Linked DNA regions of Homo sapiens: all the other regions are linked to region 1. The links come from fine-mapping of genetic effects on gene expression. A gene starts in region 1. Each other region holds a variant in brackets. All regions are shown on one strand. Distances are between the middles of the regions. Region 1 holds the start of GPRIN1 (G protein regulated inducer of neurite outgrowth 1). Region 2 holds the start of CDHR2 (cadherin related family member 2). Region 3 overlaps CDHR2 (cadherin related family member 2).

Evidence for each region. PIP is the estimated chance that this variant, and not a neighbour inherited with it, causes the effect.
Region 2: its variant is fine-mapped to the expression of GPRIN1 in whole blood (TOPMed, PIP 0.92).
Region 3: its variant is fine-mapped to the expression of GPRIN1 in whole blood (INTERVAL, PIP above 0.99).

The regions. Positions count from the first base shown.
Region 1 is chr5:176,608,871-176,611,626 of GRCh38, reverse strand. It overlaps GPRIN1 (G protein regulated inducer of neurite outgrowth 1), which reads left to right and starts at 1,471. Exons shown (of 2, transcript NM_052899.3): 1 at 1,471-1,628. RefSeq lists silencers at 1-239, 1,141-1,770, 1,831-1,890.
Region 2 is chr5:176,549,263-176,552,018 of GRCh38, reverse strand. CDHR2 (cadherin related family member 2) reads right to left here and starts at 2,677. Exons shown (of 32, transcript NM_017675.6): 1 at 2,605-2,677. RefSeq lists an enhancer at 1,472-2,405. The variant G/A (reference allele first, on the strand shown) is at 1,317.
Region 3 is chr5:176,563,132-176,565,887 of GRCh38, reverse strand. CDHR2 (cadherin related family member 2) reads right to left here. Exons shown (of 32, transcript NM_017675.6): 2 at 484-550; 3 at 145-216. The coding sequence starts at 535. Among named protein-coding and RNA genes, the nearest start is that of CDHR2, 15 kb to the right of the region's middle. The variant C/G (reference allele first, on the strand shown) is at 1,380.

The sequences.
Region 1 (2,756 bases):
GGGTTTGTAAGCTCTGAAGCGAAATGGCCTTGTGGGCAGTGAATGAGCAATTTTCAGGACCGGAAATGTGAGGAAGCAGCCCTGGTGTGGTGCTGTCCGTGGTTCTGAAACCGGTCCGACACGCTGAGGTTTTCTCCTTGCCTGGCGTGCTGCCTGGAGACGCCAGTCCCACGGATTTTCTTCATTTATCACCTAGAATTTTAAATATATATATATATATATATATATATATATATATATATATATATATATATATATATATATTTTAAAGGATCACGGTGACTTACGGTTCACCAAGTAAGAGAGGGGAGTAAAATGTAAGAATAAGAAGTGAGGTTTCAAAGTTAGACTGCATGGGTTTGTAATCCCAGCTCCACTACTAACTAGATGTGTGACCACAAACAAGTTACTTATCTGCTTCTCTTTTCTTATCTGAAAAATGGAGATATAATACATTAATATTAACTTGCTCCTAAGCGATTGGAAATTGAAATTAGATAAAACCTGTAAACAGAATCTTAGCGCCGTGTCTGGCCCTACATAAGCATCATTGCCAATGGTTGTTACCATTGATTAATAGATGGTGGTGGCTTCATAGTACCGGTGCGAGAGGGTTTTGTCACATCTAGAGCAATTACGGAATTATTTTTTCTCCTCTGGGAAGTCAAGGGGAAGGGAACTCCTTCTCTGCAGGGAAATGTGGAGGGGGTGGGCAGCGAGTCTCTGTGTCCTTGGTGATTCAGATACCACTGGAAACCCCTGAACACCTACTTTGCCCTTCCAAGACCACCGTGAGGTGCATAATGTTAGTCCCGTTTTACAGATCGAGAAACTGAAGTGCAGAGAGGTGAAATGATTTGCTCGAGGGTATCCAGGGGGAGGGGGGAGGGCGGGCGGGCCCCCGGGGAGGCCGCAGCCAGGGACTGGAAGGCATCTCTCCCGCACCACTACCTCCGGCGTCCCCGCCACTCGCTGGAGCGTGGGCAGCGGCGAGACAAAGGGCCGGGGGCGGGGAAGAGGAGGCCGGAAGTGCGGCCGGGGGTGGGGGGGGCGGAGGCGGGAAATTTCCTCGCTGGCGGAGCCGGGAGATCGCGCCGACCTGGGTCCCCATCCAGGCGCCTCGAGTCCTCAGGCCGGCGACTGCCCCCTCTGAGCCCCAGTTCCCTCCTTGGTCAAGCCAGGCGAGGGCTTTCGAGGGGCTGGTCTAAGATCTGCTAGACGGCGCGCCCCGCCCTCAGCAAGCTCGCAGCAAAGGGGCAGCCTCTCCGGCCCTCAGTCTCCCTGTCTGTGAAGTGGGAACCCGCTCGAGGACGGCGCGGAACCCGGGAGCCCAGCGGCCGCAGTTAGGGTTGGCCAGCGAGGGGCGCCCCTCCCTCGCTCCCTCCGGCCGCGGTTTCCCCGCGGTCACCGCCCCCTCGCGGTTCCGAGGCGGCCGGGCGGCTACTGCGCATGCCCGGGGCGGGGCGCGGGGCGGGAGCGCGGAGCCGGCGCTGGGGACGGCGGCGCCGAGTCTGCGGGTCCTCCCGCCAGCCCGGCCGGAGGCAGCCGAGGCCGCTCGGGCGGCGGCGGCGGCGGCGGCGGGAGCCGGAGCGCATCTCGCCCAGGAGCCGGAGCAGCGGCACTGCCTGGTAAGCGCCGCGCCCACACCCGCTGTCTTTCCGGGCGGGCGGCGGCAGCCCCTTCATCCGCTCGCTGCCGCCCCGGAGCCGCTGTCCAGGGTCCTCGAAGCCCCCCGGCGGCGGGGCTCGGACACCTCGCGCGGCATGAGCCCGGGTGTGTGCGCGCGGCTGGGGGCGGTGGGTGTCTGTTTCCAGGCTCCTCGCCGGGGCGGGGCGGGGCGGGGCGGGGCGGGGGCGGGTCCCGCAGCCCTGGGCCGAACATCAGAGGGGCCCGGCGGGCCAGGCTGACCTGGCTGTGGGGTCGGCCCCGCGCCCGGCCTTGCCGCCGCCCGCTGGCTTTGTTCGGCATGGCCGCGCGGGAGGGGGTGCTTCCCGCCACTGGGGGGAGGGCGTCCTCCCGCGTTGATTCATCTTCCCCGGAGCGAGCTCAACGCTCCACTGGCTCCACTCGCACTACTGAGCACACTCGCCGTCACACAACCAGTGTGGCACACACTCCGGGGCGCGATCACACAACACCGCGTTCACGCACGGGCGCCTCATTTCCTCGAGTGAGGCCACAGGTCTACCGCACACACACAATGGCTGTTGGTCATTCCATTAGACTCATACACACGGCCACCTGTCACCCAGGGTACTGGGTGGGAGCCTTGCGTACACACCCAGGCACAGCTACGCACTCAAACCAGCCATCGCGGATCACAGCATGGACATCAACTCAACAATACTCCCTGATCACAACACACTCGGGGCCACCCTGCCCTGGCCTGCTCACCCCTGCTCATGGGGTCCCTTGCGTACCCAGATACCCTGGAGTAGACTGCCACCCTTGTGCACACACTCCCTCTTACACACACACTCTGTCTCTTAGCGTGCTGCCCACTCCCACCCACACTGGCCCACGTTTGCACGTCCATGAACGTCCATTCTTGCCCTCCTATGTATGTATGTATGCATGGTCTGAGGGCCGTTTCTGGAAGCAGGTCTGGCTAACACCTTTAGATTCCTTCTCCCCCCACACCCCCGAGCAGGAGACTTCGCTGCTCTGAGGGCACTACGAGAGAAGGGGACGAGGGGCAGCAGACTGAGATTCTCAGACACACTCAGATGCCTGACGAAGTCCCTCAAGCCTTTGTT
Region 2 (2,756 bases), 60 kb after region 1:
GGAACTATTAACCGGGCGCGGTGACTCACGCCTGTAATCCCAGCACTTTGGCGGGCCGATTACGGGGTCGGGGTCAGGAGATCGAGACCATCCTGGCTAACATGGTGAAACGCCGTCTCTACTAAAAGTTCCCCAAAAAAAAAAAAAATATTAGCCAGGCGTGGTGGCGGGCGCCTGTAGTCCCAGCTACTTGGAAGGCTGAGGCAGGAGAATGGCGTGAACCCGGGAAGCGGAGCTTGCAGTGAGCCGAGATGCCGCTACTGCACTCCAGCTTGGGTGACAGAGCGAGACTCTGTCTCAAAAAAAAAAAAAAAAAAGAGAACTCTTGGCTAGGTGTGGTGGCAGTCCAGGCCAATACCAATAGTTCTCATTTTTTAAAGGAGCAAACACAGTCCAGCACTTTGGGAGGCTAGAGTGGGAGGATCACTTGAGCCCAGAAGGTTGAGGCTGCAGTGAGCCGAGATCGCGCCACTGCACGCCAGCCTGGGCGACAGAGCAAGACCTTGTCTCAAAAAATAAAAATAAAATAAAGTAATTTAAAATGGGGACTATCTATATTCCAGAAATTACTGCTTCCTTGTTCTCAAGCCCTCCGGCCACTACTGTTGTTTCCCTGCTCTCAAAAAATGCCTGGACCAGCCTGACCAACATGGTGAAACCCTGTCTCTACTAAAAATACAAAAATTAGCCAGGCATGGTGGCGCACACCTGTAATCCCAGCTATTCGGGAGGCTGAGGCAGGAGAATCACTTGAACCAAGGAGGCAGAGGTTGTGGTGAACTGAGATCGCACCACTGCACTGGAGCCTGGGCGACAAGCAAGACTCCATCTCACAAAAAAAAATTAGCCAGACGTGGTGGCGTGCACCTGTAATCCTAGCTAGTCAGGAGGCTGAGGCAGGAGAATCGTTTGAACCAGGGAGGCACAGGTTGCAGTGAGCCGAGATAGCGCCTTGCACTCCAGCCTGGGCAACAGAGTGAGAATCCGTCTCAAAAAGAAAGTGCTTAGGGAAGGACCAAAAAGGACACAGAGAAGAATCAGGGAGACTCTGGCCCCCACGCCATGAGATGTGTAGTCTCCAGGAATCCTCACTGGTCCCACCTGGCCCAGGAGGTGCCAGCTCTTCAGCCTTGGCTGAGAGGAGGCTTCAGCCGCATCTCAGAGCAGTCCACGGTGCCAAGATTTTCTAGAATTTGGAACCACTGGGAGTGAGGATACCCGGACTGCCCAGGACCTCCAGGAGGGTCAGGGTGGGGAGGTGGGTCCTCCTTCAGTGTGGGGAGCCCCCGGGGTGCACTCAGCCACGATGCTACAGA[G/A]CTCCCCCAGCACCGCCACCGCTACACGGCCAGCTCGCCATGCACTTTCACTTCTGCTTTTTCATTTACTTCTCACAGCTGTTCCCAAGCAGGAATTATCCTATCCTATTATTCCAAGGAAACCGAGGCTCATAGATGCCCAGAGATGGGTGAGCCAGGGGCAGCAGGTTAGACCCAGGCTGCCTCCAAATCCAGGGGTCCCTGGGCAAGCCTTGGTCTGGGCTCCGTTGATCCAGGAGGCCGTGCCTGCACCCACAGAGCGGACTCCAGCCGAGCCTGGGTGCCCGGAGCAAGGATGTGGGACCTGAGCACGCAGCTCCCCGCCACGGGCCCTCCCAGTGCCTATGGCCCAGGCCACCTGGCCCAGCAGACACATACAGACTCAAACAGCCCTGGGTTCAGATGGCAGCATTTCACATATTTGTTGTGCAACCCCAGGCAAGCCCTCTCCCCTCTCCAGGCCTCAGTTTCCCCTGCTGAGAAGCAGAGTGAGGATAAAAATCAAGGGGTCTACACACGGGCCATGACTTGTTTCCATCTGCCGGACCTCGGTGCTCACTGGGACCCTGCCTTGTGCCTGGTGCCCAACCCAGCACAGGCCTGCCTGAGTGACGCAGCATGGCCCCGACTCTCAGCTGGGTCACCACCTCCTCTACCAGGGCAGAGAGATGTGCAAGGCCCGGACTGGGCAGAGCTGGGGCCAGCCTGGGTCAGTCCCTGCCTGACACTTCCTAGCACTGGCTGAGGTGGCACTGGGCTCGGTCATAGGCCACATGCTCACCTTTGCCTCAGGGCTTTTCAGGCCCTTTCTGGAACTCTTCTCATCCCCATTTGATAAATGAGGAAACGGAGGCCCAGAAGAGTTAAGTAGCCCACCAAGGTCAGGGTGGAGCTGGGATGTGAACCGAGCAGCTGGGGTAAGAGCCCAGGTCAGCTTCCCCGTCCTCAACCCCTGAGCATCCTATGAAGGGGTCAGGCCAGTTACCTCGTTTCCCTGGGGTGCCTGCCTCCCTTCCATCCTCTGAAGAATCATCCCTTGAGGACTTGGATGGGAAGGGGGCCATCAGCCCCCAGGGAAGGAGGTATTATTATCCCATGTTTACCAAAGAAACAGGCCTCACAGCAGGCTGGGACCTGACCCGGCTCTGCCCCATCTAGCGTGTGACTTCCCCTGCCCAGCTTCAGGGGAGACTTTTAAAGACCCCCAAGCTTGCCTTGGCTCTAGGGATCCCCCCAACCCCCACATTTCTCTGGCCCAGAGACCCCCGATGAGCTGGATAGTCCCTACCTGTGTCCCCTTCGCCACGGAGGCGGCAGGCAGGCGCCGGACAGGCGCTGGCACACAGGTGGGCACCCTCTGCGGCCTGCAGCTATGTGGCCAGCAGACTTTGGCACCATCTCCACCTCCACTGAGCAATCATTAACCCTGCCAGAGACCAC
Region 3 (2,756 bases), 46 kb after region 1:
GGAATCAAAGGAGCTCCCTTCAGTCCCTCTTTGTCCCACAATAAGCCATGGAGTTGCAGGCATGGTGGGGGCTCCAGAGGGCACCCCAGGACTTTCCTGTGGGTCAGGACCTGACATGGGGCAGACACAGGGACCGGGACTCACCCACAGGCAGGTCCTCAGGCAGGATCACTGACGTCATGTTGGCTAGGAACTTCGGGGCCACGTTGGCTGCCACTGTAGGGACACAGTGTGCTGGAACATCGGGACACCCCTGCAAAACCCGATCCCTACCTGCTCCCCTGGGAGCACACACTAGTCCTTATGGCCACCCAGGCCACCCGTCCAGGCCTGGATTCCTCCCCAGGCCTCCCCAGCTTAGCCAAGCACAGGGCTGGCCCATAGGAGCTGGTGTTTGCTGATGAGGGATCCCCCTCCTTTCTGGAGGGTCCTGCCAAGGGTCTCTAGGTTAGGGCTGCGTGGCTGGGGAGGGGAGACACCTACCAGACACCACGAGGGCAGGAAGGAGGAAGCAGGACAGCCATAGCTGGGCCATCACATCCGCAGGGACCTAAGGGAAGAGGTCAGGGAATGGCTCCTGGACTCAGGCCTCCCTCCTTTTGGCAGACTCCCATCTGCCTGGGTCTGACCTGAGCCCACCCACCACTGCTGCTTAGTAGTTCTCCCCCAGGGCCTCTATCACCCTCTGTCCATTTTCCAGATGCTCTAGGGTCAGGGGAACCAAGGGGGAGGCCAGGTGGGGTAGGGGTGACCACGATGTCTGAACCTGAATCCAGGACCTGCCATGCACCAGGAAATGCTCCAAGGCACTAGATGTGCAGCTGTGTTATTCCCACAACTGTGAGGTGGCTGCTAAGGCACCAAGATACGAAGGGGCTTGCCTGAGGCCACGGGGAGTCAATGACAAGACCATGCTTGGAACACAGGTCTTTTGGAGTCCAGAGTTCATTCTCTCAACCACTGCACCATCTATACCTGCCTGTTAGAAGTGTTCAAACTAATAGTATCCTTCACAATCAAGACCCTGGAGAGGGACCATAATTTGTCCAGGACCATCCAGAGACTATGGGTGGGCAGGGTCCTTCGTTCACCTGCTGATACATCTAGTGGCTGTCTTTGCAGCCTTTCCCAAACTGTGCTCCGTGGAACCCTGGCCCTCTGAGATGCGCCACAGCAGAAGGGTTCCCCAGTCAGGTGGGTCTAGGGAGGGCTGCATACTCTGGGATCCTCTTGTTGATTGATAGCCAGACAGAGACCTTAGAAAACCCTGCTGGGCCAGTCTTTTTGATCATCTTATGTTGCAAGCCGTCCCTTGTTAGGGAAAAGGAGAAAAGGGGGACTTTGATTCACTGTCACAGAGAGACCTGAAACATCAAGGC[C/G]CTTTCAATGCCCAAAGACAAGGCTGGGCGTGGTGGCTCACGCCTGTAATCCCAGCACTTCGGGAGGCCGAGGCGGGCGGATCACCTGAGGTCAGGAGTTCAAGACCAGCCCGACCAACATGGTGAAACCCTGTCTCTAACAAAATACAAAAAACGTTAGCCGGGCATGGTGGTGGGTGCCTGTAATCCCAGCTACTCGGGAGTCTGAGGCAGGAGAATTGCTTGAATCCGGGAGGCGGAAGTTGCAGTGAGATGAGATCACGCCATCGCATTCCAGCCTGGGAGACAGAGTGAGACTCCGTCTCAAAAAAAAAAGAATCCCCAAAGACAACTGATGTGTCACTCCACAGAAAGCAGGAGAGCAGGATGGGCCCCCACACGTTTTGTTTCTTGCTGTCTGTCTAGAAAGTTGTCTGTATGCTCTATGTTCACTGTGCTACTCTATAATCTTTCTGTAAGACAGGGCTTTTTACTGTATACTTTTTTCTTTTGAGACAGTGTTTCACTATGTTGCCCAGGCTGGCCTTGAACTTCTGGGCTTGAACTCCTGAGTAGCTGGGATTACAGACGTGTGCCACTGTGCCCAGTTTTTTACTGTATACTCTTTTGTGCTGATTGAATATGTTAACTTTTCCAAAAATGAATTAAACAAGCTTGAAAGCAAACAAAGGAACACATTTGCTACTGTAAACTAAAAATAAAATCCTATGCCTCCCACTGACTAAACGGCCCCACTTGTGGCCCAGGAGACCCCAGAAAAACTTTCAAAACTTAGTTTCCAGCCATGGCGGGATGGGAGGTCAATCATGCCTCATTATACCCTTCTCTTTTACAGGCGACACACAATAACCGACCAGCGTTAATGTTAAAATAGAGTTCGCAGGACTGAAAGAATAGACATTCCGTGGCAATAAGATGCCAAATTATAAACAGGACCTGAGGCCATGCCAGGCCAGGGTGAAGCCAGGCAGCCCTACAGAAGAAACTCTGTTCTAACTGCCATGAGGGTTTTTTTTTTCTTTTTCTCTAGCAGCTAAATAAGCACTGGCCTCGAGAAAAGCCAAATTAAAGCAATTACAGCTCATCCAGTTCACAGCTGCTGACGAACTGAGCCCCTGTTCCACCAGCCATAACCGCAGCCTTTTTTGTTTGTTTGGTTTTGAGACAGAGTCTCACTCTGTCACCCAGGCTGGAGTGCAGTGGTGCCATCTCGGCTCACTGCAACCTCTGCCTCCATTGTTCAAGTGATTCTCCTGCCTCAGCCTCCCGAGTAGCTGGGATTACAGGCACCCACCACCACACTGGGCTAATTTTTGTATTTTTAGTGGAGACGGGGTTTCACCGTGTTGGCCAGGCTGGTCTTGAACTCCTGACCTC